Linked DNA regions of Homo sapiens. The protein of the gene in region 4 purifies or fractionates together with the protein of the main gene of each other region. This does not show direct contact. Each region holds a gene or a part of one and is shown on either strand. Other genes may lie near its edges. The genes, in order: PCDHGA9, FAM114A2, ENOPH1, UBA6, PPP1R12A, AHCY and PFKP.

What was found.
Region 1: the proteins of UBA6 (region 4) and PCDHGA9 purify together in Homo sapiens (co-immunoprecipitation; one large-scale study listed by IntAct). This does not show direct contact.
Region 2: the proteins of UBA6 (region 4) and FAM114A2 fractionate together in Homo sapiens (co-fractionation; one large-scale study listed by BioGRID). This does not show direct contact.
Region 3: the proteins of UBA6 (region 4) and ENOPH1 fractionate together in Homo sapiens (co-fractionation; one large-scale study listed by BioGRID). This does not show direct contact.
Region 5: the proteins of UBA6 (region 4) and PPP1R12A fractionate together in Homo sapiens (co-fractionation; one large-scale study listed by BioGRID). This does not show direct contact.
Region 6: the proteins of UBA6 (region 4) and AHCY fractionate together in Homo sapiens (co-fractionation; one large-scale study listed by BioGRID). This does not show direct contact.
Region 7: the proteins of UBA6 (region 4) and PFKP fractionate together in Homo sapiens (co-fractionation; one large-scale study listed by BioGRID). This does not show direct contact.

The regions. Positions count from the first base shown.
Region 1 is NC_000005.10:141,503,778-141,507,277, reverse strand, and holds part of PCDHGA9 (protocadherin gamma-A9 isoform 1 precursor), read right to left. Parts: intron 1,886-3,500; coding exon 1,797-1,885; intron 1-1,796. Other genes in the region: PCDHGC5 (protocadherin gamma-C5 isoform 1 precursor), read right to left, coding at 1,797-1,885; PCDHGC4 (protocadherin gamma-C4 isoform 1 precursor), read right to left, coding at 1,797-1,885; PCDHGC3 (protocadherin gamma-C3 isoform 1 precursor), read right to left, coding at 1,797-1,885; PCDHGA12 (protocadherin gamma-A12 isoform 1 precursor), read right to left, coding at 1,797-1,885; PCDHGA11 (protocadherin gamma-A11 isoform 1 precursor), read right to left, coding at 1,797-1,885; PCDHGB7 (protocadherin gamma-B7 isoform 1 precursor), read right to left, coding at 1,797-1,885; PCDHGA10 (protocadherin gamma-A10 isoform 1 precursor), read right to left, coding at 1,797-1,885; PCDHGB6 (protocadherin gamma-B6 isoform 1 precursor), read right to left, coding at 1,797-1,885; PCDHGB5 (protocadherin gamma-B5 isoform 1 precursor), read right to left, coding at 1,797-1,885; PCDHGA8 (protocadherin gamma-A8 isoform 1 precursor), read right to left, coding at 1,797-1,885; and 11 more. UniProt on the Homo sapiens protein: Potential calcium-dependent cell-adhesion protein. May be involved in the establishment and maintenance of specific neuronal connections in the brain.
Region 2 is NC_000005.10:154,000,911-154,004,410, forward strand, and holds part of FAM114A2 (protein FAM114A2), read right to left. Parts: intron 2,060-3,500; coding exon 1,937-2,059; intron 1,481-1,936; coding exon 1,341-1,480; intron 1-1,340.
Region 3 is NC_000004.12:82,433,590-82,437,089, reverse strand, and holds part of ENOPH1 (enolase-phosphatase E1), read right to left. Parts: intron 1-3,500. UniProt on the Homo sapiens protein: Bifunctional enzyme that catalyzes the enolization of 2,3-diketo-5-methylthiopentyl-1-phosphate (DK-MTP-1-P) into the intermediate 2-hydroxy-3-keto-5-methylthiopentenyl-1-phosphate (HK-MTPenyl-1-P), which is then dephosphorylated to form the acireductone 1,2-dihydroxy-3-keto-5-methylthiopentene (DHK-MTPene).
Region 4 is NC_000004.12:67,631,656-67,635,155, reverse strand, and holds part of UBA6 (ubiquitin-like modifier-activating enzyme 6), read left to right. Parts: intron 1-637; coding exon 638-727; intron 728-833; coding exon 834-914; intron 915-1,682; coding exon 1,683-1,811; intron 1,812-3,247; coding exon 3,248-3,299; intron 3,300-3,384; coding exon 3,385-3,448; intron 3,449-3,500. UniProt on the Homo sapiens protein: Activates ubiquitin by first adenylating its C-terminal glycine residue with ATP, and thereafter linking this residue to the side chain of a cysteine residue in E1, yielding a ubiquitin-E1 thioester and free AMP.
Region 5 is NC_000012.12:79,809,598-79,813,097, forward strand, and holds part of PPP1R12A (protein phosphatase 1 regulatory subunit 12A), read right to left. Parts: intron 414-3,500; coding exon 198-413; intron 1-197. UniProt on the Homo sapiens protein: Key regulator of protein phosphatase 1C (PPP1C). Mediates binding to myosin. As part of the PPP1C complex, involved in dephosphorylation of PLK1. Capable of inhibiting HIF1AN-dependent suppression of HIF1A activity.
Region 6 is NC_000020.11:34,286,356-34,289,855, reverse strand, and holds part of AHCY (adenosylhomocysteinase), read left to right. Parts: intron 1-3,500. UniProt on the Homo sapiens protein: Catalyzes the hydrolysis of S-adenosyl-L-homocysteine to form adenosine and homocysteine. Binds copper ions.
Region 7 is NC_000010.11:3,109,048-3,112,547, forward strand, and holds part of PFKP (ATP-dependent 6-phosphofructokinase, platelet type), read left to right. Parts: intron 1-307; coding exon 308-433; intron 434-3,174; coding exon 3,175-3,239; intron 3,240-3,500. UniProt on the Homo sapiens protein: Catalyzes the phosphorylation of D-fructose 6-phosphate to fructose 1,6-bisphosphate by ATP, the first committing step of glycolysis.

The DNA.
Region 1 (3,500 bases), on a different chromosome or scaffold from region 4:
TATGCTGAAATAGTACTTGCTGTTTATCTGACATTCAACTGTAACTGGGCATCCTGTATTTTATCTGGCAACCCTGATCTGGAAGAATAAAGCAGAGCTCGAGGAAGAGGACAGCCTCTCATCCTGCTCAGGTAATAGAGAAGCCGAGGCTGGATCCAAAGGCAGCCATGGTCCCTATAGTAGAAAGAGCATAAACTTAGGAGTTGAGCCAGGTTAGAACCTCAGCTTGGCAGCTCAAAACTGAGGACCCTGGGGCAAGTGCCTTCTCGGTTCTCTCATCTGTCGAGTGTGAGAAATCAGACCTGCCTTGCAGAGCTATTGAGAGGATTCATTGACAGGAGGCCCCTAAAGTTTGTTTAGTATGTGCCCAGGTGTGATGACAGTGCTTCTTGTGATTTCACCTGGTTCTCTACCCACCAGTCCTCCAGACATGCTGGAGGGCAGGGCTATCAGTTCATGATATAGGGCAATGCCTTGATCCTCTGCCAGCCTCCTTATAAGCCCAGGATTTGCTGCTCCAGAAGCTAGTCTTTATTAATAGGCATTATTCTAATTCTGCTTTCTACCCAGTAAAAAACGGGTTTGGGTCAGCAAAGATAATAATATATTGTGCCCTTACTCTCTGCCAATCCTGTGCTGAGGGACTTGCATTTGGCCCTGGTAACACCACAATGAGATCCGTTAATACTGTGCCCATTAATAGTAAGTGAAACCGAGGGGGTTTAATAACTTACCTAAGGACTCATTGCTAAGTGGTGGTGCCAGGTGCCAGGATTTGAATCCAGATTGGCCTGCCTCTAAAGCCTGTGCTCTTTTTTTTTTTTTTTTTTTTTGAGACAGAGCGAGACTGTTGCCCAGGCTGGAGTGCAGTGGTGCGATTTTCTGCTCACCACAGCCACCTCCCAGGTTCAAGCGATTCTCCTGCCTCAGCCTCCCAAGTAGCTGGGACTACAGGCACGCACCACCATGCCCAGCTAATTTTTGTATTTTTAGTAGAGACAGGGTTTCACTATGTTGGCCAGGCCGGTTTCGAACTCCTGACCTCATGATCCTCCTGCCTCAGCTTCCCAAAGTGCTGGGATTACAGGCGTGAGCCACCACGCCCAGCTTAGGCTGTGCTCTTAAGGACAAATGATATTCTTCTTCTCCTGCTCTGGGCCCTAGTGACTCTTCAGGGACAACCACCACTAGCCGAATCTCTATTACAAAGGAAGCCCTTAGTCAACCTTATGGGAAAACCAGAATCCTACTCTGGAGTTAGGGGCAGCAAAAGAGGAGCCTCGCATAAAGAGGAGGTGTTCTCTCGGCTGGGGATTTCTACACCCACTTTCATTGCTTGAGGGCTTCCAAGCGCCAGGCCCAGAACTCTATGCTTTGTGGTATCATCTCATTTAATCTCTACAACAACCCTTTGGGGTCCCTGTCCCCACTTTCTAGGCTGAGGAAACTGAGGTTTAGAGAGATTGAGCAAGTCGATCCAAGTCCCAAGGATAGTAGCAGAGCTAGGACCTGAGCTACACTGTCCCATTCCAGAGCTAGACTTGTAACCACTATTCCCTCCATGAGTCTTTTCCTTGTTCGCTCTCCTCCAGGCATCCCAGGACCCCCAACCCCTCTGCTGTTCCTTAGCCACAATTCCAGGCTTTATGTTTGGAATTGTGGGTCCTTTCAGACCTGCCGAAAGATCTGGAGAAACTACACAGGTTTGACATCCAGTCCGTGGGCATGGTGGCTGTGAGATGCACCCCAGAACCCCAGGTCTCCCACTCTTCCATACACACACTGACACCACTTACCACTGGCGGACGCCAAGATCATGGCTTGCAGCATCTCTGTGTCAAACTGGTTGTTGGGCCAGGTGCCGGTGTCATCGCCATTTTGGGAGCTGGGGAGAGAGTAGGATGGTGAGCACAGACTCCCAGGCCGGCACAGCTCATGCCCCTCCTGTCCTCTCCCAGGGCTCCCAAACCTAGTACCCTAACCCTACCCCATGCCCAAGACCTGTTTCTCTCAGCAAGGTAGGAGGCACTTCTACAATCCTTCAGAAGCCAGAATCCCACAAGTCAGTCCCTCAAACCAGCTCTTTGCTGCCTCCGATGCTTTTTTCTTTTTGTTTTAGACAGGGTCTTACTCTGTCATCCAGGCTGGAGTGCAGTGGCGCGATCTTGGCTCATTGCAACATCCACCTCCTGGGTTCAAGCGATTCTCCTGCCTCAGTCTCCCAAGTAGCTGGGATGACAGGCACCTGCCACTGTGCCAGGCTAATTTTTGTATTTTTAGTACAGACGGGGTTTCACCATGTTGGCCAGGCTGGTCCAATGCATTGAACATAGTGCATTCCCCCACCCACCATGAGAGAGCCTGGCTTCCTGTCATAGTGAGGGAGATCAGACCTTCTCCAGAGGACTGTGAAGGTGGGAAATGGAAGAGAATGTTCCAGAGCTAGAGAAAAAGTGGGGACCTAGGAGGTACCTAGGGGGAGATGTAGGAGGCCCCAAGAGACCCTGGAGCAGGGAGAAGAAATTTCTAAAATTCAATGGCTTCCTAAGCCCTCAGAGTAAAATCCACGGCCATAGAAGAACCTGCCCCTCCTATTTTACAAGAACCCCCACCCCCCGCCCTCAAACACTCTATCATCAAACCTTTTCCAAGGTGCACTTTCCTATCCCTCAAGTTCCCTCTTGCTGTGAATCCTGGGCAGATGGTGTTCCCTAGAATGCCAGTCCCCCAACATTTGCCATGATGACACGAATAAAATATATCAGAGGAGATCCACTCAGACTGGGCAGGTGCCTCCACTGTACTCCCATCCCAGCGGCTGCCCCACATGGCACTAGTCACACTGCAGCTGTTGTAGTGCCTGTCTGTTCCTCCACCACACTGGCTTCTGTGAGGCAGCGACTCCACCTGCTTCCTACTGAAGCACCTAGCACAAAGCCTAGCACTTGGACCTAAGTGAGACTTTTAGAAACTCCGAGTGTTGAAAAAACATGAAATGATTCATAATTTAAAAAAATACTAAACCATAAGAAGAACTCTCTGCTTCTTAGAAGGTTCAGCTCTACTTGGAATTTTCCCACAGTGACAATTTTCATGATTTTTTTGAATTTCCAAGGATGAAATTATTTCAATTTGCAGGGGAGTGTTGGCGGGAAACAGCCCTGGCACACACACAGTCTGCCCTTTAGGTAACTGTTTGGCACCATCTGGCTCAGAGAAGTTTTTCAATAAATATTTGTTGCCTAAATGAGTGGGAAGAGACCAGCAGAGACAGTTAAGTGACTGTAAGGTAAGAAGAAGGGTTTGGCACCATGGGAAAGGCTGTAGGGTAGGCCTTGAAGGCATGAAAATGTCTGTGTGTGTGTTGCGTTGTGTGTGTGCATATTTTGTCATGGTGGGTGAGCACAACCAAGAACTGCTTTACAATTTTTCCAAGGTCTGTCCCTGCTTTTGGTTTTGCCCAATCTGGGATTCCCCGTCCCTAAGTAGATGAACTCAGC
Region 2 (3,500 bases), on a different chromosome or scaffold from region 4:
TTAGTTATTAGTTACTGGGTGCTAATTTTATGCCAGGCACCATGCTAAGGGATTTACATGTATCATTTCTAATTTTTACAACAACTCCAAAAGTAAGTGATTAGTCCATCTTTAATAATAGTTACCTAAAGTCTTGTGTGTGCCAGATTTTATTTAAAGTCTTTCAAGCAATGGGAACATATCAGTGAACAAGAAAAGTCCCAGTTTTCATGGATTTCAACTTACTTGCTAAATTAAGGGGGAGACTATATACATATACATATATACACATACACACATATGTATACATATACACACATATATATTCATATACATGTAAGTCCTACTTGGTGATATAAGCTAAGACAATAAAGCAGAGTAAAAGGACAGAGAATGGTGGAAGTTGCTATTTTAGACTTTGTGGTGAAGGAAGGCTTTTCTAAAAAGGTGGCATTTGAGTAGACTTGAATTCAGAGAGGGAGTGAACCCCATTTCAAAGAACATTCCAAGTAGCAGAAATAGCCTCTTTTCCGCAGAACAGGCTCCTTTTAGGGTTGTGAGTCTCTCATCCTTAAGGAAGTTCAAGAAGACAAATTAGCCCCCTATTATGGGGTGCTGTAGTGGGATGGTGATGGTGCAAGTAAAGAGGAAGTCTGCAGAAGACTGACAGCCCCTCCCAGTTCTAATAATGGGCACTCTTATACATTTGTTTCCAATGAAAATTCTCATTATTTTAATCAGGACATTTGCTTAGAAACTACTGGGCTTTTTCTTCCCTACCTATGATTATCTATACTATTTTTGAAAAATTTTTGTACAAATCAGCAATAAAATGAGAAAAAAAGAATGGGTTCAGGACACTCAGTCAGACCTGGGGCTAAATCCCAGGCCATACAGCACAGACAGATTACTTAACTCCTCCAGTTTGCATTTCCTCATGATTAAAACTGGACTAATTACTTACTTTTGGAGGTATAAAAATTAGAAATTATACATGCAAATCCCTTAGCATGGCACTTGGAATGGTATAAAATTAGCACTCAATAATAACTATTATTAAGAACTGAGGTTCTTAGAACTCTTCTCTGTTTTCACTTATACCAAATTCCATTCCTATTAAAACTTATCTGTAAAGAAATAGTCTTCAGAGCATGAGTTGGTTAATAAAAAGGGCATATTTATAATATTGATTTATCATGGTTCAATGAAAAGAAAAAAACAACCAAAATGAACAAACCATCTAATATGTGGATGGGTGTGACGTGAATGGTTTCTTGAGAGAGACGTTTATAAAACTTTGGAAACAGGCCAAGAAAACTCCTGCAATTTGCATCATTTAGAGGAATTCTCATTACACTTACTGGGAAAGAGTTTGGCTCCTTTCTATGGCTGTCACTTCCTGCTTCCTGCCATGCAGAACCAATGCAGCTGTTTTGTGGAATAGTTCAATTGAGCAGGCAGTCAGTTCAGCCAGGCTCCGGATTGCAAACGCATGGATATCCTGGATGGAAAAACAAAACAAAGCATAGCAAAACAAAACATTTGGTGGAAAGATACCACCTTACTTCTCTCATACTACAGGATTTGTAGCAGAGACTAATAGTTGCCTTCCAATAAAGAGTGTCTTCTTCTTCCACAGTAGTGATATAATTTTACAGCTGGGCTCCCCTGAAGTCAGGTGTGACGAAGTAACTAAGTTTTGGCCAAATGATTTAGATAACAAGTGTCAGGCAGCAGTTTCTGGGAACCTTCCTCATGACAAAACACACGCGCATCCTTTCTCTCTTTTTTTCTTCACTCCTCCTTTAATCTTATAGTCTGGATCTAAGATGCTACAATCCTAGATCACAAGGTTGAAATTACGGACAGCAGTGTAAAAATAGGAGCCTGGGTCCCTGATTGTGACACATTTCAAATCTACTAAAACAAACAAAAAAGGCTTAGTTGCTTTGGCTACCTCTATTGAATTTTTGTTGACTTGCTCAGTATTTTCTGCTTCCGACTGTTTTTCTCCTTCTTCATTCTCTGCTAATGGCTTGGTCAGAGACTTCCTGATCCATTCGTGGGCGGTATTTCTTGCCTAAATAAGAAAAATATTGGCCATCAACAATTCAATTCAGTTTACCAAAATTACTGTGCACCTACCAGGAACACAATAGCATCCTAGAAGTAAGGGCTCCTGTTCTTACCTGAACGTACCATCTAGCTTTTCAGTCCTTATCCTACTAGTCTCAGCAATACTTATCACTGTGGTCCATCATTCCTTTTCAAAATTCTCTAATTGGTAGTATTTTTTTTTTTTTTTTGAGATGGAATTTCGCTCTTGTTGCCCAGGCTGGAGTGCAATGGCACAATCTTGGCTCACTGCAACCTCTGCCTCCTGGGTCCAAGCGATTCTCCTGCCTTAGCCTCCCGAGTAGCTGGGATTACAGGCGCCCACCACCACGCCCAGCTAATTTTTGTATTTTTAGTAGAGACGGGGTTTCGCCAGGTTGACCAAGCTGGTCTCGAACTCCTGACCTCAGGTGATCCCCCTGCCTCAGCCTCCCAAAGTGCTGGGATTACAGGCATGAGCCACTGCGCCCGGCCTCTAATCAGCTTTTTAAAAAACCAAGGTATAATTTACATAAAGTGCACAAATCTTCAGAGTATGGCTTAAGAAATGTTTTTATGTGTATATGCCTACGAAACCGTGATCAAGATATAGAATATTTCCTCATCCCTAGAAGGTCCCTTCATGTCCCTTCCTAGCCAATACTATTCAAACCATGTCCCCCTCCTCCTGCCCAAAGACAAACCCTCTTCTGCTCACTATAAATAATTTTTCCTAATCTTAAAATGCATAAAAATAGAAATATAAGTTCATTCTAATTTGTGTCTGGCTTAAGCACAACATAATGTCTGTTAGATTTATCCATGTTGCTGCATGTATTAGTTCATTCATATTAACTGCTGTGTAGTATTTCATTTTATATACAGTCATGCACCACATAATGATGTTTGGGTCAACAGCAGACCACATATATAATGGTGGTCCTGTAAGACTGTAATACCATATTTTTACTGTACCTTTTCTATACCATTGTGTTGCAACTGCCTACAGTATTCAGTACTGTAACATGCTGTACAGTTTTGTACAGGAGCAATAGGTTAAACGATATAGCCTAGGTGTGTAACAGGCTACATCAGCTAGGTTTGTGTAAGTACACTCTCTGATATTCGCCCAATGACAAAACTGCCTAATGATGCAGTTCTCATAACATATCCTCATCATTAAGCAATGCATGATTGTATATATCACAATTTATCCATTCTCCTGATAATGAATCTAGTTTTCTTTGGTTTTTGTAACCCCAACTTTCTTCTGTTCTCCTCTGACCTTTATGACCATTTCTCCTCAGTATCTTTTATATATTGATCCTAACTGGCCAGTCTCTTAAACGCCAATATTATTTGGAGGTCTAGCCTTCACTCTTTACTCGTCTCATCCTATTCCCTCTCCATCCATCCTATGCCAGTGG
Region 3 (3,500 bases), about 15 Mb from region 4:
TTTTTTTAAGACAGGGTCTTGCTATGTTGCCCAGGCTGGTCTGAAACTCCTAGCCTCAAGTGATCCTCCAACCTTTGCCTCCCAAAGTGTTCGGATTACAGGGGTGAGCCACCATGCCCATACTGAATTATTTACTTAATGCAGATTCTTTGGGTTCCAACAACGATAGGATGATGATGATGATGATGACGACGATGACATATTCTGTGTGAGAGCAGGATGAACATGACAGTCCCAGCTTTAGGGAACTAACAGGTGGCTGGGTGAGCAGATTGTCTAAGGCTCATGTGGTAGGCAGCCCAGGTCTCCTGAATCCTAGGTGAGGTCCCTCCCAGCTAGGTGGGACAGCTTCCTCCCAGAGGCCAGAGGTGCTTTCTATCCACCATTTTTTTTTTTTTTTTTTGAGACAGGGTCTTGCTTTGTCATCCAGGCTGGACTGCAGTGGCACGATCATGGCTTACTGCAGCCTTGACCTCCTGGGCTCAAATGATCCTTCTACCTCAGCCTCCTGAGTAGCTGGGATCACAGGCACATGCCACTACACCTGGCTAACTTTTTTTATTTTTAGTAGAGACGAGGTCATGCTACATTGCGCAGGCTGGTCTTGAACTCCTAGGTTCAAGCAATCCTCTCACCTTGGCCTTCCAAAGTGCTAGGATTACAAGTGTGAGCCACCAAGGCTAAGGCTAGCCTCCATCCACCTCTTGATATACGCAAGACAGTGATTCTCCAAAGACTCCTCACCTTGTTTCAAGCTGAGTCAACAAAAATCCTCTCACGTACTACCATGAATGTAGCTGGGAAACACTGCCCTAAGCAGTAGAAAAGTTTGGGGAGAGGGGGGCAGTTGTTTATCAACCCATCAACAACTACTTATCTGCCATTCCAGTGCTTCCACAAATTCTTAGAGATCAACAATATCCTGCGTCTTATTTTTAACATATTTCTGGGTAGGGCAATAAGGAGCAGAAGTCACTGGGAGTAACCATGGTAGACGTAACTGGGAGCATGGTGGGTTTCAGGAAATGTAAGATCCCTCTTTTCCTTATCAATCCTTCCTTCATAAGCACTTTCTATTTCCTCCAGTCTGACACTTCCTGCATTATAATCAGTGTTTCTATAGGACTTCGTAATTTTCAAAGGCTTTTGAATTCCATCTTATTTAACCTTCATCACCACCTTTATAAACAAAGCATATCCTAGTAGCCCATCCCTGCGGATGAAAAAGCCTAAATCCGTAGACTGAATGAAGATAGGGAAAGAGACCCTATTACAGTTACTGGTGTCAATAATAAATAGCACAGGTAGAAGAATGCTTCCAGTGTGCCATTCCTTGTAGGCTGTCTTCTAGCTGTTTCATTGTGCAGGCAGAGTGCGCATCCTACACTTCTCAATGCTGGCAATAATAGAAGTAATACTACTTATCAAATGGATGTTTAACCAAAGTTGGGAGATAACTATCAGACTTTAAAGCTCTCTTCCTAAAAAGACCATAATTTAATATAGCAGTTTTCATAAGAAAGATGTTAACTGCAACACTCCCCAATTATTATCTTCTAAAATACATTATAAGAGGACATAAAGAGGACTGTTAAATAATCAAGAATGAATTCACTATTTCTAAAAATGCTTTACCAGCCTGGACAACCCAGTGAGACCCCATCTCTGCAAAAAATTTTAAAAATTAGCTGGACATGGTGGCACATGCCTATAATCCCAGCACTCTGGGAAGCCGTGATGGGAGGACTGTTTGAGTCCAGGAGTTTGAGAACAGCCTGGGCAACACTGTGAAACCCCATCTTTATAAAAAATAAAAATAAGCTAGCTAGGCATGGTGGTGCACACTCGTGGTCCCAGCTACTCAGGAGACTGAGGTAGGAGGATTGCTTAAGCCTGAGAGGTCGAGGTTGCGGTGAGCTGTGATCGTGCCACTGTACTCCAGCCTGGGTGACACAGCCTGACCCTGCTTCAGAAAAACAAAGACAAAAAAGAACAAACACCAGAGGTATGTGTCCTGCGGTAAAGTGCAGGGATGGTGGCGGTGGATTTAGATGCGGTGGGAACATCTAAGGAAAACTGGGCTCTGCTGCAGCTCTACTCCCAACAAATTTTGATGATCCTCAGGCAAGACACAAAGACATGCTATAAACTGAAATTTGTTACCATATACTTTTTTTTTTTTTTAAAGACAGTCTCGCTCTGTCACTCAGGTTGGAGTGCACTGGCACGATCTCGGCTCACTGCAACCTCCGCCTCCCAGGTACAAGCGATTCTCCCACCTCAGCCTCCCCAGTAGCTGGGATTACAGGTGTGCGCCACCATGCCCAGCTAATTTTTGAATTATTTATTCCTTTTTTTCTTTTCTTTTCTTTTTTTGAGACAGCGTCTTCCTCTGTTGCCCAGGCTGGAAGGCAGTGGTACAATCTCGGCTCACTGCAACCTCCACCTCCTGGGTTCAAGTGATTCTTCTGCCTCAGCTTCCTGAGTAGCTGGGATTACAGGTGCCCACCACCATGCCCGGCTAATTTTTGTATTTTTAGTAGAGACGGGGTTTCACCATGTTGACCAGGCTGGTCTCAAACTCCTGACCTCAGGTGATCCACCTGTCTCGGCCTCCCAAAGTGCTGGGATTATGAGCCACCATGCCTGGCCTACTTTTTGTATTTTTAGTAGAGACTGGCTTTCACCATGTTGGCCAGGCTGGCCTCGAACTCCTGACCTCAAGAGATCCACCTGCTTCGGCGTCCCAAAGTGCTGGGATTACATGCCTGAGCCACCGTACCTGGCTTGTTACCATATACTTTTATAGCACAGTACTTCACATTGATTAAAGAACTCTCATACTAACTGTGTCATTTAACATACACAACCACCAAGCAAAGGAGACAGGACAAACAGTAGCATCCCATTTCCAAGGCTGAGTGCAGTAATGGAAAAAATAAGAGTTTTTATGAATAAGACAATCTGAGTTCAAATCCCAGGCATCTTGTTCAACTTTTCAGAGGCTTTGTTTCATCCTAAGTAAAGTGTAGACAGTACATACACCTCATGGTCTTTTAGAATGAGTCAAGGATTGAGTACTGCACGTATACAGTACTCAATGTTTCCTTCCATCATTCCACAGAAGGAAGGGCTACAAGTTCACACACCTACTCTGACTTTAAAGCTCCAAGCAGATTATCTTTCAACTCCCATGCTCAACCTTTCCGTGCTCAGATTCAAGAATGTAACTCAGCATCTCTTTAAAAGGTGTTTAAAAGATTAGTCACTGAGATACTCTACTAAAAGTTTTTTGTTCAAGTAGATTTGTGAAATGTCACTCTCTTGAAATCTCACAAAGTGTGTATGTGTGTATATATATGTATGATACCGAAGGTTCTGAGAAGTCTTGCAATAAAGAAATCTATTTGAACTCATTCTAACTAGCATTTCCCAAAAGTGCATTTAATGGAATCCTTTTTTACATAATTACCATAAACATCCACACAGACCTAACTTTC
Region 4 (3,500 bases):
GACTAGAACTGTCAACAAAGACATAAAATTTTATTCACTTGCTGAGACAAAGTGAGTCATTTTAGATTAGGTAAACCAATAAACCTAGGCAAAATGTACTCTATAATAGAATGTGGATTTCTTCAATGGTACTTTATCCACAAAAAACGACTTAGGTATTTACCATTTATTTAATACATGCTTTCTGCAAGAAACCTCAAGCATTGAGGACATATTTCTGCTCCCAGATGTTTTTCTCCATGGAAAAACTCATGCTTTTCTGAGCACTATACTGGGTATTCCTGAATTACTTTTCAAAGCGGGGCAGTGTTATAAAACTTTAAATGTCACCTTGATTCATGAGGAAAAAAATGATTTATAGATGATGGTGTGTCATGAGTACTACATGGTGCTTTAAATGAGTACACAAATAATAAATAAGATTCATGTTTGGCATTACATAGCTATTAACAAATAGGTTAAATGTCAAAAGAATTAACTTCTCTTATTGCCTAAGAGAGAGAAGATATAAAAATGTCTGGTTGGATTTTATTTATTTTTGGATTTTTAATAGGCTTAAAGCTCAAAACTAGATTAAATCAATAAAAATTGGTCATTGCTTCCCCTTAAGTACCTGTTGTCATATTTTATAAATTAGCGGGATCCCCCAGAAGAGGAAATACCATTTTGTACTCTAAAATCCTTTCCAGCTGCTATTGAACATACCATACAGTGGGCAAGAGATAAGGTAAAAGTTCCTTTTTAAATTTATTTTCTTTGAAGTGAGAAAGAAGATATTTCTGACTTTAAACAGACTTCTATTTGTAATTTTTTTTTTCTTTTCTCTGTTACAGTTTGAAAGTTCCTTTTCCCACAAACCTTCATTGTTTAACAAATTTTGGCAAACCTATTCATCTGCAGAAGAAGTCTTACAGGTAAAAATCAGTAAATTTTAATACAAACTTAACACTTTGTGTCAGTGTAATCTTATTTTCAAGTCATCTACAAGTGATTTATTTTACCTCCATAAAGAGTGATTGTATATAAAAAATGAAATGATACATAAGGAATCTTGAAATTAGGTCACAAATTATCATTTTGGTTGTTTGAACTACATGGAATTGTCGATATTTGAGCATGTTCGACTCACAAAACAGCAATTCGTATGGTGCGAGCTAATAAAGATATGATAATTATGATAGAAGGGCTACAAATAATAAAAGGGCTTTTATTAAGCCCTTTGGAAAGAAAAAATTGAGGTAAGTTCTAGTTAAAATTTCATGAGGGAACAATAATCTCCAAGACTTATTACTCTTATAGTGAAGGCAACTTTAAAGATGTTTTCTCACTTTCTTTTAATCTTTTGCTAACAAGGCCCACTTTTTAGTATCAAATATTCATAGCACTTATAGTGAGTACATATATTATAGTACTAATAACTTACAGCTAGGAAAATATGAGGATAACTTGTAAGATAAGAAATCAGAGTTAAAATTTTGTATGCTATCTCTTACCATTCCCCTTCTCAAACAGAAAAGAAAAGAAAGGTTAAAGAAGAAGGAAGGGAAAAGGAGCTTGAGGTGAAAAAAGAAAAGCATAAAACACATGAGTTGACACTTCAAACTTAGGCTAACTTTTGGTGAGGGATGTGTATATGTTTGTAATTGGAAGTATGTTGATTTTTTTTTTCTCTCCCATTCTAGAAGATACAGAGTGGACACAGTTTAGAAGGCTGTTTTCAAGTTATAAAGTTACTTAGCAGAAGACCTAGAAATTGGTCCCAGTGTGTAGAATTAGCAAGATTAAAGTTTGAAAAATATTTTAACCATAAGGTAAGTATGCATTGTGAGACATTAAGAAAAGGTCTGATCTTGGCTTATTTAGTTATTAACAAATTAATTTCATTGACCTGAAATGTGTATTCTTTCTTTTGGCAAGCTTTTCAGAAATTAGTAGTAAGTTAAATGAGAACACATGCTAATCTAAAAGAAGTTTGTTCAGAATAGAAGAAGCAAGAAACTGAGAAAATAGGGACATTTAGTCAGAAATTTTGCTGAGATTTTGCCATTTCCACCCATATCTGATAATCACATTTTATGTCTGTTTCCCCATCTGTAAAATAGAAATAATAAATTTGTACCTAATACATAAGGTAGTGGTAAAGATAAAAGGAGGTAACACAAAGCATTTAGAACAGAGCCTGGCACATAAAAAATTACTAAATATTAGCTGTTATTCTTACCTCCAGTTAAATATAGTTGCTGGAATGTGTGTTGCCTTCTCTTTAGTCTTTCCCTCTCTTTAGGATCTTAAGTTCATCTTCCTTAGAAACAACTTTAAAAAAAAACAAAAAAACAGGGTTTCCCTATGTTTTCCAGTCTGGCCTGGAACTCCTGGGCTCAAGTGATCCCTGCCTCAGCCCTTAAGTAGCTGAGGCTGCATGTGCACGCCACCACACCCCACTTAAAAAATATTTCGTTTATACTTCTTCTTTTTACTTTCAACAGAGCTCTACTTCTTGGAAAAGTGGTCTGTACTACTCAATGTTACCACTTCTTTACCCAGTAAATTTGACTTCTTTGCTCATTACTCTTCAGATTGTTCTTAACATGGTTATCAATGACCCGTTTCAAAAATCTAAGGAACTCTTTAGTTCTTATCTTCTGTGCATTTTTTTTAAACTTTTTTTATAATGAAAAATATTCAGCCATAGAAATGTAGAGGAAATAGTATAATGAACCCTAATGTAATTGTCAATTACCTATCACCCAGGGTTAGCAGTTATCAATTCATAGATAAATCTTGTTTCATCACCATTCCCGTTCATTCTTACCTTCCCCCAGGTGATTTTGAAGCAAATCTCAAACATGTATCAATTTCAAAAATACAAAGTACTGTGTGTTTTTTCTGGTTTTGTTATTTAAGTACTAGCTCTTTAAAAAGAACAGAATGACATGTAAAATATGCCATTTATATAAAAAGGAGTGAAGTAATCTACATTTGTTTGCTGTAGATACCACCTCCCAATAAACCTACAAATAGTGATAGAAAATGATATTTGAATTTTTCATTTATGAGGGACATTGACAGGAGAATGGACAGATGGAATACAAGGGTGGTAGGGAGACTTCACTGTGTCTCTTTTAATGTGTTTTGATTTTTGAATCATGTGCATATATTTACTACACACATTTTTTAATTTTATTTTTTAATTTTTCCTCAGATAATATTAAGTAGTGGGTGTCTTTAATTCATTTTTTTTCTTTAGGCTCTTCAGCTTCTTCACTGTTTCCCTCTGGACATACGATTAAAAGATGGCAGTAAGTATAAATGTTGAGAATAAATTTTAATGACATTTATTACTGGCTACATACATTGAAAATGATATTTGTATCTTTTTGCCAGGTTTATTTTGGCAGTCACCAAAGAGGCCACCCTCTCCAATAAAATTTGATTTAAATGAGCCTTTGTAAGTATTTATATTTAGTTTTATGTATCCTTCATTATATATTTCTTTACTG
Region 5 (3,500 bases), on a different chromosome or scaffold from region 4:
ATGTTTTAGGCAAATACATCTGATCTTTCCAGTATTTATAATTCTGTATAAATTACATTTGTCTTATGTAATTCATTAAGGTTAATTAACTTGATACCTAGATCTAAAGATAACTAGCAGAAAATCTACCAGATTTGATGTTCCTGGAAAAGAAATCATAACAGTTTTCATAGAAACCAGACTGTGAAATAGATTACCTTTTCTTTATTATCCAAAGAGGAGGAAAGTCTGGGACTTGAAGCTGAACGTGTAACACCTGCAGTATCTTTTTCTTTCTGACCCTCTTTAGATGCTGTGATTTCAGCAAGTGCACCATAGCTGCCCGTCTTTCTAAGTCCTAACCTCCAAGTTGCAGGAGACTCATCTTTTCTCTCTTCTTCTTTGGGAGAAATTTTTGTAGCTGTGGTTGGAAACTGTGTTTATTTTATTTTTTAGGAAAAGAAAAAAGAATTTGTAAAGCTGATCAGTCCTTAAATTGGAAACAATAAGTTTACAGATAATATATTTAAAATTATGGTTTACAGTTTCAGGATAAAACACTTTTACTACATAGGTTAATGTCTTAGTAAAAAATGTAAAGATCTAAAAATTTTAAAGAAATAGACTACCTTCCTAGGGGTTAGACTTAAGAAAACACACTACACACTTTATATCACACAGAAAAATTATGATGCAAATACAGAAAACAGAAATGAGCACACCATAAGGACTTAAAACCATGCATCTTTGGAACCAATTTATATTAAACTTGTTATGTTGTAACCTAATATAAATTCTTGCACATAGAAATGCCTCACCATAGATTTTTCACCCTTACTGGGCACAAGAACAATGCCAGTTTTGCGCAAGCCCTGCCTCCATGATGCAGGATCTACTGATTCCACCACAGGCATGATAGGAGCAATGAAATCATACTAAAGCCAATTAAAATAAGACAGGTAAAGAGACAAAGATTGAAAGCATGAAAACAGAAAAGGGAAGTTATGAACAAAAAATATTTTCTTCATTTGAAAATAATTTTATAATTAACCCCAATAATTGGGTAATGATCCAATCTTTAAAAGTCACTGGGAACAAGTTCTAATTTTAGCATGAGATAATCTGAAAAAAATCTAATAAACTTCTAAAGCAATTAAAAGGCATACAGAGTAGATAATATAGCATGTGACTGAACAAACTACTGCACATGAATTTTGTTTTTAATCCATGTATATACTCTGGTTAAAAAATTTTGTGTCCAATATAATCAACAAAAACTAGTAACTGATATTTTTCCAATTATAATACTTTTTTTTTTAACATCACAGCCTTAAATTTACTGATTTCCCCACCAAACATTAACTATTTCAACTATAATAAAAACTAATTTTATGTACAAATATTTATGCTATTTTAAGGGCTTTCCAACAACCCTAAAAATGCAACCTCTGTTATCTTTAGATCACTTCATCAACTTCACTTCTAGAAATTCTATACTCAACCACAGTTAACTATATAGATTGGTGAATACAGCAACTAACTAGTTGCCACAAGCATAGGGTATTAATAATTTTTTAAAAATCATTTCTTTCATATCTATTGCCAACATTTGCTATAATTAGCAGGTTAACAGGGCTTGTTAAAGCCCCCATGATGATGCTTGAGGGCCACTTCATGGACAAAACTGTTATAAAGATATACCTCTGGTACTTCCAGTAATGAATTGCTATCAATAGTGTCTAAGCATTCCTCAGTTCCTAAAATGTGCACCAAAGTGCTCCAGAGTGTCACAACAAAATCACGGGGGCTCTGTAGAATATTTTAAAGTTTTGAGAGAAGCACAGTGACATCTCATAGACACTGCACAAACTGCCATTTTGATCACATTTCCATCAAACTACTTAATGAGACAAACAGGCAATTCCTTTTGCCAGTGGCACTGTGAAAAAATCCTACCAAACACTAGGGGCTCCAATGACCAAGAAAGTTTGCGAACTCTAATATTCTGTGCAATATGATAGGTACTGAGACAGCTGCTTATTGATTGGTGAGTTTACAGGGCTACACTGTAAATGCTAGGCTTTGTGGAACACAGATAATATTAATACACAAATGATTGAGTGTGGCTGTAACCAATAAAACTTTAGGGACAATGACTTTTTTTTATTTTTTTTCTCCAACCAGTTTGCTATACAAAAACAGGTAATGGGCTAGGTTTGGCCCACCAGCCATAGTTTGCCAACACCCACATTAGGTCTCCCACCTCCTCAAAAAACAGAAACAAAAAAACAAACAAAAAACCTGGAAACAAACGTTTTTTCCCCCATTATAAAACAGCCAGAGTCAGTCAGTCAGATAACATTTATTGTTATAAATGAAGCTAACATTTATTGTTATAAATGAAGCTAACATTTAACAAATATTTACTAGTGTGTGACCCTCAGCTAAGTGCTTCACATGGGTTATCCTGTTTCAACCTTATAATTACCCAATGAAATACTACTATTACTGTTATTTTAGAGTTGAGAAAAACGAGGCAGTACTATCTATCAATTTTGAAATGGGCATTTGTTACACTGTAATGGCTGATATACCTCCACTCTGCCCAACATGAACTTGGATTTAAGTACTGCTTTATATGTCTAAAAGCACCTTTTAATTTTACTTGATATATAAATAAACCCTTCCTGAAATACTTAACTATACCTCCTCCTCCATTAAACTCTCTTCTTTGGCTTTTTTTACTGGACACTATCTTCACCTTCTTTTTCTTTTTACTCTGACCATTCCTTTTCTTGACTGACTCTGTGTGTGCGTGTGTGTGTGTGTGTGTGTGTGTGTGTGTAACGTTCCTTATACAGGCTGTGTGTGTTTGTGTGTGTGTGTGTGTACAACTTTCCTTGTGCTAGCCCTTCCAGAGCCTGCTCTTGGATCTCTCATATTCTCTTTCTACTTTCTTCTCCTGGGGGGTTAGGAGGAGGGTCTTTACTTCCTCAGGCTAAATATTAATTGTAGTCAGCTTATTCTCAAATGTGTTATTCTCCAGTCCAGTCTCCTAAATTTCCAGTCCTAATTTTACCTGTCTATTCTAGGTAAAATTCTACCACACTATTCTAGAGTGGACAATCTAGAACTATAACTGAAAACTTGAAACTCAGTATGTCTAAAATAAAACACCTTTACTTCCAAACCATCTCTTCTTCAGTTCCCTAATTCTGTTAATGGCACTAAGTATATCTCTTCAATCTCCTATGTTTCAAACTTCACAATTATGTTAGACCTTCTCTGTCATTTTCCTCCATCCATAAATTAGAGGTCAAGTCTCTAAATCTCCTCTCCTTTATAAGCCCAGAGTCACTTCTCTAGTTCATATTCTTATCATTGTGGGCAACTTCAATGACTTTCTAATAAACCTTTTCTCAATAAGCCTCTCATCTTCAAATCTGTACACTGCTGTCAGAATAATATTCTATAAAGAATAATCCTCTCATGGCATTGTTCAAACATCTTCCACGACTACT
Region 6 (3,500 bases), on a different chromosome or scaffold from region 4:
TGAGGCCAGGAGTTCGAGACTAGCCTGGCCAACATGGTTGAAACCCCGTCTCTACTAAAAATACAAAAAAATTAGCTGGGCCGGGTGCGGTAGCTCATGCCTGTAATCCCAGCACTTTGGGAGGTCGAGGCGGGCGGATCACATGAGGTCAGGGGTTCGAGACCAGCCTGACCAATATGATGAAACCCCATCTCTACTAAAAATAGAAAAATTAGCCGGGTGTGGTGGCGGGCACCTGTAATCCCAGCTATTTGGGAGGCTGAGGCAGGAGAGAATTGCTTGAAGCTGGGAGGCGGAGGTTGCAGTGAGCCGAGATCGCACCCTCGCACTCCTGCCTGGTTAATAAGAGTGAGACTCCATCTCAAAAAAAAAAAAAAAAAAAAGGCCAGGTACAGTGGCTCATGCCTGTAATCCCAGCACTTTGGGAGGCCTAGGTGGGCAGATCACGAGGTCAGGAGTTTGAGACCAGTCTGGCCAACATAGTGAAACCCCGTCTCTACTAAAAATACAAGAAGTTAGCCGGGTGTGGTGATGTGCACCTGCAATCCCAGCTACTTGGGAGGCTGAGGCAGGAGAATCACATGAACCCGGGAGATGGAGGTTGTAGTGAGCCGAGATTGTTCCACTGCACTCCAGCCTGGGTGACAGTGCGAGACTCTGTCTCAAAAACAAACAAACAAAAAAATCAGCTGGGCATGGTGGTGGGTGCCTGTAATCCCAGCTACTCGGGAGGCTGAGGCATGAGAATCGCTTAAACGTGGTAGGCAGAGGTTGCAGTGAGCCGAGATTGCGCCATTGCACTCCAGCCTGGGCAACAGAGCGAGACTCCATCTCAAAAACAAAACTAAAAACAAAAAACAAAAAGGGACACAGCTTGAATCACTGTGTGAGGAGCAGGCCCATGCACTGAGCTGGGAAAGAACAGGTTTGCATTGGGCATTGGGGCACTGAAACTGGAAGATGAGTTCTTATAGGGGGTGTGAAGTTTTACTTGAGTTGCAATTATTATGAGTTTATTTTTTTCTCTGATTATAAAAGTAGTATGTTTCTGGAAGACATTTTGGCTTTGGATATCAAGAGCTTTAAAGTTAAGCAACCTCTTTGACTGGGCAATCTCTCCTATAATTGGTCCTTAGGATAATTAAATATGTATGTAGAGATGTTCATCATTTTTTTTTTCTTTTTTTGAGATGGGCTCACTCTGTTACCCAAGCTAGAGGGCAGTGGCATGATCATGGCACACTGCAGCCTTGACCTCCTGGGCTGAAGGAGCTGATCCTCCTGCCTCAGCCTTCCAAGTACCTGGGACTACAGATGTGCACTACTACACCTGGCTAACTTTTTATTTTTTGTAGAGACGAGGCCTTGCTGTGTTCCCCAGGCTGGTCTCAAACTCCTGAGCTTAAGTTATCTCCCAAAGTGCTGGGATTATAGGCGTGAGCTGCCACACCAGGTCCACCACATTTTTTAAAGGGAGAAAAGCCCACCTATGTGAGGTTCTTTGAGTTGGTGCTGTGCCGTGTTTGAGATATGATAAGGAAGATACAGACACAGAGTTGGCCAAAGCCCTGACACCCACCCAGTCACAGCCACACCAGAAGCCCAAGTCCCAGAGAGGCAGACAGGCAGCTCTATGAACCCACATCCCCTACACTGCTCCTCTTGGGTGCTCTGCTCCTGCGTGGGAGTTCTCCTTGGCTAGGTCCTGCACTAGTCTAGGGTGTCAGTTCCCGGCTAGGCAGAGGGCACCTCCATCTCTGCCTAGAAGGCCTGGCACTCATCACAGTGTGGGGGTGGCCAGGGCGTGCTTCTGTGGCAGCCACACCCCTGACAGCCATCTGTCTAGACCTCCTTTTTGCAAAGGCATCACAGGTGAAACCTGCTACATTGGGGTGATGGGCACCTTTCTGCCAAGCTGCCCTCCAAAGCTGGACTCTATGCCCACCCTCAACATCCTTGACAGTCTTGCCAACCTTCTGCCCAACATTATCTCTTGTCCGTCCTCTCAAGGGCCTCTGTACTCAGGCCATAATTGACCACTCCCTGAATACCCACTGCAGCTCCTACTTCTGCTCATCTGTCCAGACAGCTGCATTTGTCTGGAACAGAACACATGCCCTTCTCCTTGTTCATCTTCTCAGCCCAGCTCAAGAGACCCCCTTCTGGCCAGGCACGGTGGCACACACCTGTAATTCCAGCACTTTGGGAGGCCGAGGCAGGCGGATCACTTGAGGTCAGGAGTTTGAGACCAGCCTGGCCAACATGGTCAAACCCTGTCTCTACTAAAAATACAAAAAATTAGCTGGGCATGGTGGCTCATGCGTATAGTCCCAGCTACTCTGGAGGCTGAGGCAGGAGAATCGCTTGAACCCAGGAGGTGGAGGTTGCAGTGAGCTGAGATCACACCACTGTACTCCAGCCTGGATGACAGAGTAAGACTCCGTCTCAGAAAAAAAAAAAAAAAAAAAATTAATAAAATAAAAAAGAGACCCCCTTCCTGGCCAGCTCCTCTGGCAGAGGCAATGCCCACACTCTTAGTACAGACCCCTAGTGCAGCATCCATCACTGGCTTTGGTCTCTGACCCCACTGTTGTACCAGGAGGGTAGAGTCCAGGTTGACGTGTCCCTGCAAGGGGCTTAGATGGGTATCAGTGAGTGCTTATTGATTGAAGCATCAATCAATGCCTGATGGGCATCAGAGACCTTTCCTTGGATCGGTACTAGGCCTCTGGAGCAGCTTGGAAACCTGGGCTTTTGGGGAAATGTTTGGGAGGCTGCCTGAGGGTGGAGGGATGGCAAGGGAAGAGCTGGGAGTGGGGAGAAAGCAAGTTTGTGTGTTCAGACAGCTGGGACAGACGGAGGACTGGGGCACTGAGGCTGGGGATTTCCATGTCACGTTCACTCACTAAACCGGGAGTTCTCAACCTTGGCAGTCACCTGGGAGCCACACTGTGGGCCACAGGAATAGGAGTCTCTGGGAATGAGGCCAAGGTATCTTTTTTTTTTTTTTTTTTTTTTTTTGAGACGGAGTTTCGCTCTTGTTGCCCAGGCTGGAGTGCAATGGCGCGATCTTGGCTCACCACAACCTCCGCTTCCCAGGTTCAAGCGATTCGCCTGGCTCAGCCTTCCTGAGTAGCTGGGATTACAGGCATGTGCTACCATGCCTGGCTAATTTTGTGTTTTTAGTAGAGACAGGGTTTCTCCATGTTGTTCAGGCTGGTCCCGAACTCCCGACCTCAGGTGATTCCCCCCGCCTTGGCCTCCCAAAGTGCTGGGATTACAGGCATGAGCCACCGCGTCTGGCCTGGGTATCCTCATTTTTTAAAGCTTCTGAGGTGATTCCAATGTGAGCGCCACGGCATTCAGCTTTTGCTAAGCTGCATTCAAAACTATTTCATGGTTATTGAGAACATGGGATCTGTCCTCAGACCGTCCAGACTCAAATTGCAGCCTCCTCTTAGTGTGTGGCTCTGGACAAGTGACCTAACCCTTGTAAACTT
Region 7 (3,500 bases), on a different chromosome or scaffold from region 4:
CACAATCCCAGGGCAGAAAGGCTGTGTTTCTAGTGAGTTTCTGGAAACTGACTCAGGGCAGCAGGAATCCCAAGTACAAACCCTCAGTTCTTAACACTCCTGCTCTCCATGTGCCCTGACCTCCTCTCTGTTCCCGTCTTGCCAGTTCTAAAGGAGTGGAAATCGCTTTGCTCTAAAGAGTTGGGCTGGAAGCGGGAGGGGCTGTGAGCACCTGACTGAGGTCATTGGACGTCATGGAAAGATAGGAGGTGACAGGGACAGGGCAGGACGGGAGGCTGCCCCTGACCCACATGGACCTGGTTTCCAGGCCAGCCGCATGGGAGTGGAGGCAGTCATCGCCTTGCTAGAGGCCACCCCGGACACCCCAGCTTGCGTCGTGTCACTGAACGGGAACCACGCCGTGCGCCTGCCGCTGATGGAGTGCGTGCAGATGGTGAGTGGGCAGCCCATGGCCAAGGGCAGGGCGGAGACGGCTGGGACAGAAGCTGCTTGTCAGGCCAGCCTGGGCACCTTGGGTGTCTCGTCGGTGCACGATGCATTACACGGCCTTTCTGAGAAGGAGGTGAGCTGCCCGTGGGGAGGGAGAAGGCTTATGTTCTCTCCCACACCTGCAGAGCCTGCGCCGTCTTCGCTCTTTGGTTTTCTAAGTTACCATCCATCTGTGTGGCACATAGTCGTAACCTCCCCTGAGTGGGGGTCTAGAGCATCGGGATCCTCAACAGTCGAGGATCCAGGTGGCCCCAGTGCACCAGGTGCTGCAGAAGGACAGAGTGCAGGGAGGCAGCCGAGAGAGAGAGATCCGTGGACAGACTGCAGGGAGGCGGGCGTGAGAGAGACCCATGGGGCAGAGGGGGCAGGGAGGCAGGGAGGCGGGCGTGAGAGAGATCTACAGGGTGGTATTTTGTAGGGGAAGGTGGGACCTTCCCAAACTTCTCCAGTTTCAGCCATTTCCTGTCCTCCTATCCCCAAGGACATTCAGGTCTGTGATGGGACACAGGGAAAGCTCTGGTCACCCGAAGATACACCCACCCTTCTTGGGCCAGGGAACTGTCTGCCTGCAAATGAACAAAGGGAAAAGCAGTTCCAGCTTTTCAGGCATTGGTTCAGTAGTGGAGGTGGCTGTGGAGTTAGCTGCATTTGAAGTTATTTAATTAATTAATTTATTTATTTAGAGACGGAGTCTCACTGTTGCCCAGGCTAGAGTGCAGTGGCGTGATCTTGGCTCACTGCAAGCTCCGCCTCCTGGGTTCACGCCATTCTCCTGCCTCAGCCTTCCGAGTAGCTGGGACTACAGGTGCCCACCACCACGCCTGGCTAATTTTTTTTTTTTTTTTTTTTTTTTGTATTTTTAGTAGAGGTGGGGTTTCACCGTGTTAGCCAGGATGGTCTGGATCTCCTGACCTTGTGATCCATCCACCTCGGCCTCCCAAAGTGCTGGGATTACAGGCATGAGCCACCACGCCCAGCTGTTGTTTTATTTTTCAGAGTTCATTCATGATTCGTGACTCCTGTTTTGTTGCCTCTTAACACACACAAAGAAGTCGTGAAGCAATCAAGTCAGGGACTTGTTGAAAGTCACCTTGTAAACATAATTTCCAAAAGCCCAAGGGAGAAAATAGTATTTGTGTGTATGTGTGTGAGTGTGTGCGCAGGCTTGTGTCTCTGTGTGTATGTATGTATATGTGTGTGCATGTGTATCTCTGTATATGCATATACATGCAGGTTTATGCATATATTTATGCATGTGTGTGCATGTTTGTGAGGTAGTTTGGGTCTGCATGTATGTGTATGTTTATATGCATGAGTATGCATGTTTGTGGTAGTATGTCTGCATGTATGTGTGTGCATGTTTGTGTGCATGCATGTTTGTACGTGTGTGCATGTTTTTGTGAGGTAGTGTGTGTGCATGTTAGTGTGTGTGCATGTGTGTATATGCATGTGTACATTTGAGTGTGAGGTAGTATGTTTCTGCATGTTAGTGTGTGCATGTATGTTTATATGCATGTGTATATATGTGTGTGAGGTAATGCATCTGCATGTGTGTGCATGTATGCTTATATGCATGTGTGAGCATGTTTGAGATAGTGTGTGCATGTCTGTGTGTGCATGTGTTTATATGGATGTGTGTGTATGTTTGTGAGAGGTAGTATGTGCCTGCATGTTTGTGTGTGTGTGCAGGTATGTTTCTATGCAGATGTGTGCATGTTGGCATGAGTGTGAGGTAGCGTGTGTCTGCATGTTTGTGTGTGCAGGTATGCTTATGTGCATATGTGTGTATGTTGGAGTGTGAGGTAGTGTGTGTCTGCACGTTAGTGTGTGCCTGTGTGCATGTGAGAGGCAGTAGGCTTAAAAGGCTCAGAGCACTGAACGACATGCGGTACGTGTATTTTGAGCCTGTGTCTCATGTCTCTGCTTGTCTAGAGACGACCGTGGTAGGTGTCACTTGCCCTGACCTTGAAACCACCCTTGTGTGGCTTTGTTTTTAAAGCTGAGGGACCACTACTGTGCACCTGCTGTTTGTCAGGCGTCTTCCTGAGGGTCTGACATGCTTGAATAACCTTAGAGATAGCTGGAAGTAGGAGTATTTTTCTCATCTTACAGATGAGGAAATTGAAGTTCAGAGCGAGAAAGAACTTGACCAAGATCCTGACGTTGCCCAGGGCTGCCTGGCGTGCATCAGTCCCAGCCCCGTGTCCCAGGGCCTCCATCCGGGCCCCTCTGCTCCCCCGCCCGCTGTGACCTCGCTCCCATCCCACATCCCCCAGTGAGCTGGTGTGTTCTGTTTTGTTTTTCCCCACCATAATCAAATTGAGAATTCCTTAGAACCATGCCTGAGAGATTTCATTTCCTCTGGCTTTGTTCTCTTGGAGTTAAATCTTCACAGTGTTGTGTCCACAAACAGCAGGTGACACCTTCTCTTTTTCCTCAGAAGCCTCCTGAGCTAAGCAGTCCCAGGGCTCTGACCTCACAGCCGGGCCGTGTGGGGCTGGCTGCCAACCAGCATTAGGACACACTTGGCGGCCGGTCGTCTAGACCATTAACCCTGGGGCTGCTGGCTGCCCGGGTCAGACTGGAGGGGGCTGGTGGGAAGGACCGAGCCAGTCTCTACCTACCCCATCCATGATGCACCAGGTCCTGACACATTCTTTCTTCTTTTCATCATTGTTTTAAAAGACTCAGGATGTGCAGAAGGCGATGGACGAGAGGAGATTTCAAGATGCGGTTCGACTCCGAGGGAGGTGAGGTGCTTTGGAGAAAGCTCTGCCCTGTCAGGAACACACACCCCTCAGGCCCAGCCACTGCAAACGTGCTTAGGGGTTGTGCTTATTCCATGTCACTGTGAAAAATCAGAAAGTCAGGCAGTACTCACAGCACCGCTCTTGCAGTAGCAGGCCCTGGTGACTGGTTAGAGAGAAATCATTTTCTAAATTTGCCATTGGTCCTTTTTGGTAAGGTGATGGTTGTTTAGGAGCTAATGAGATTAAGGCACAAGGTGACTT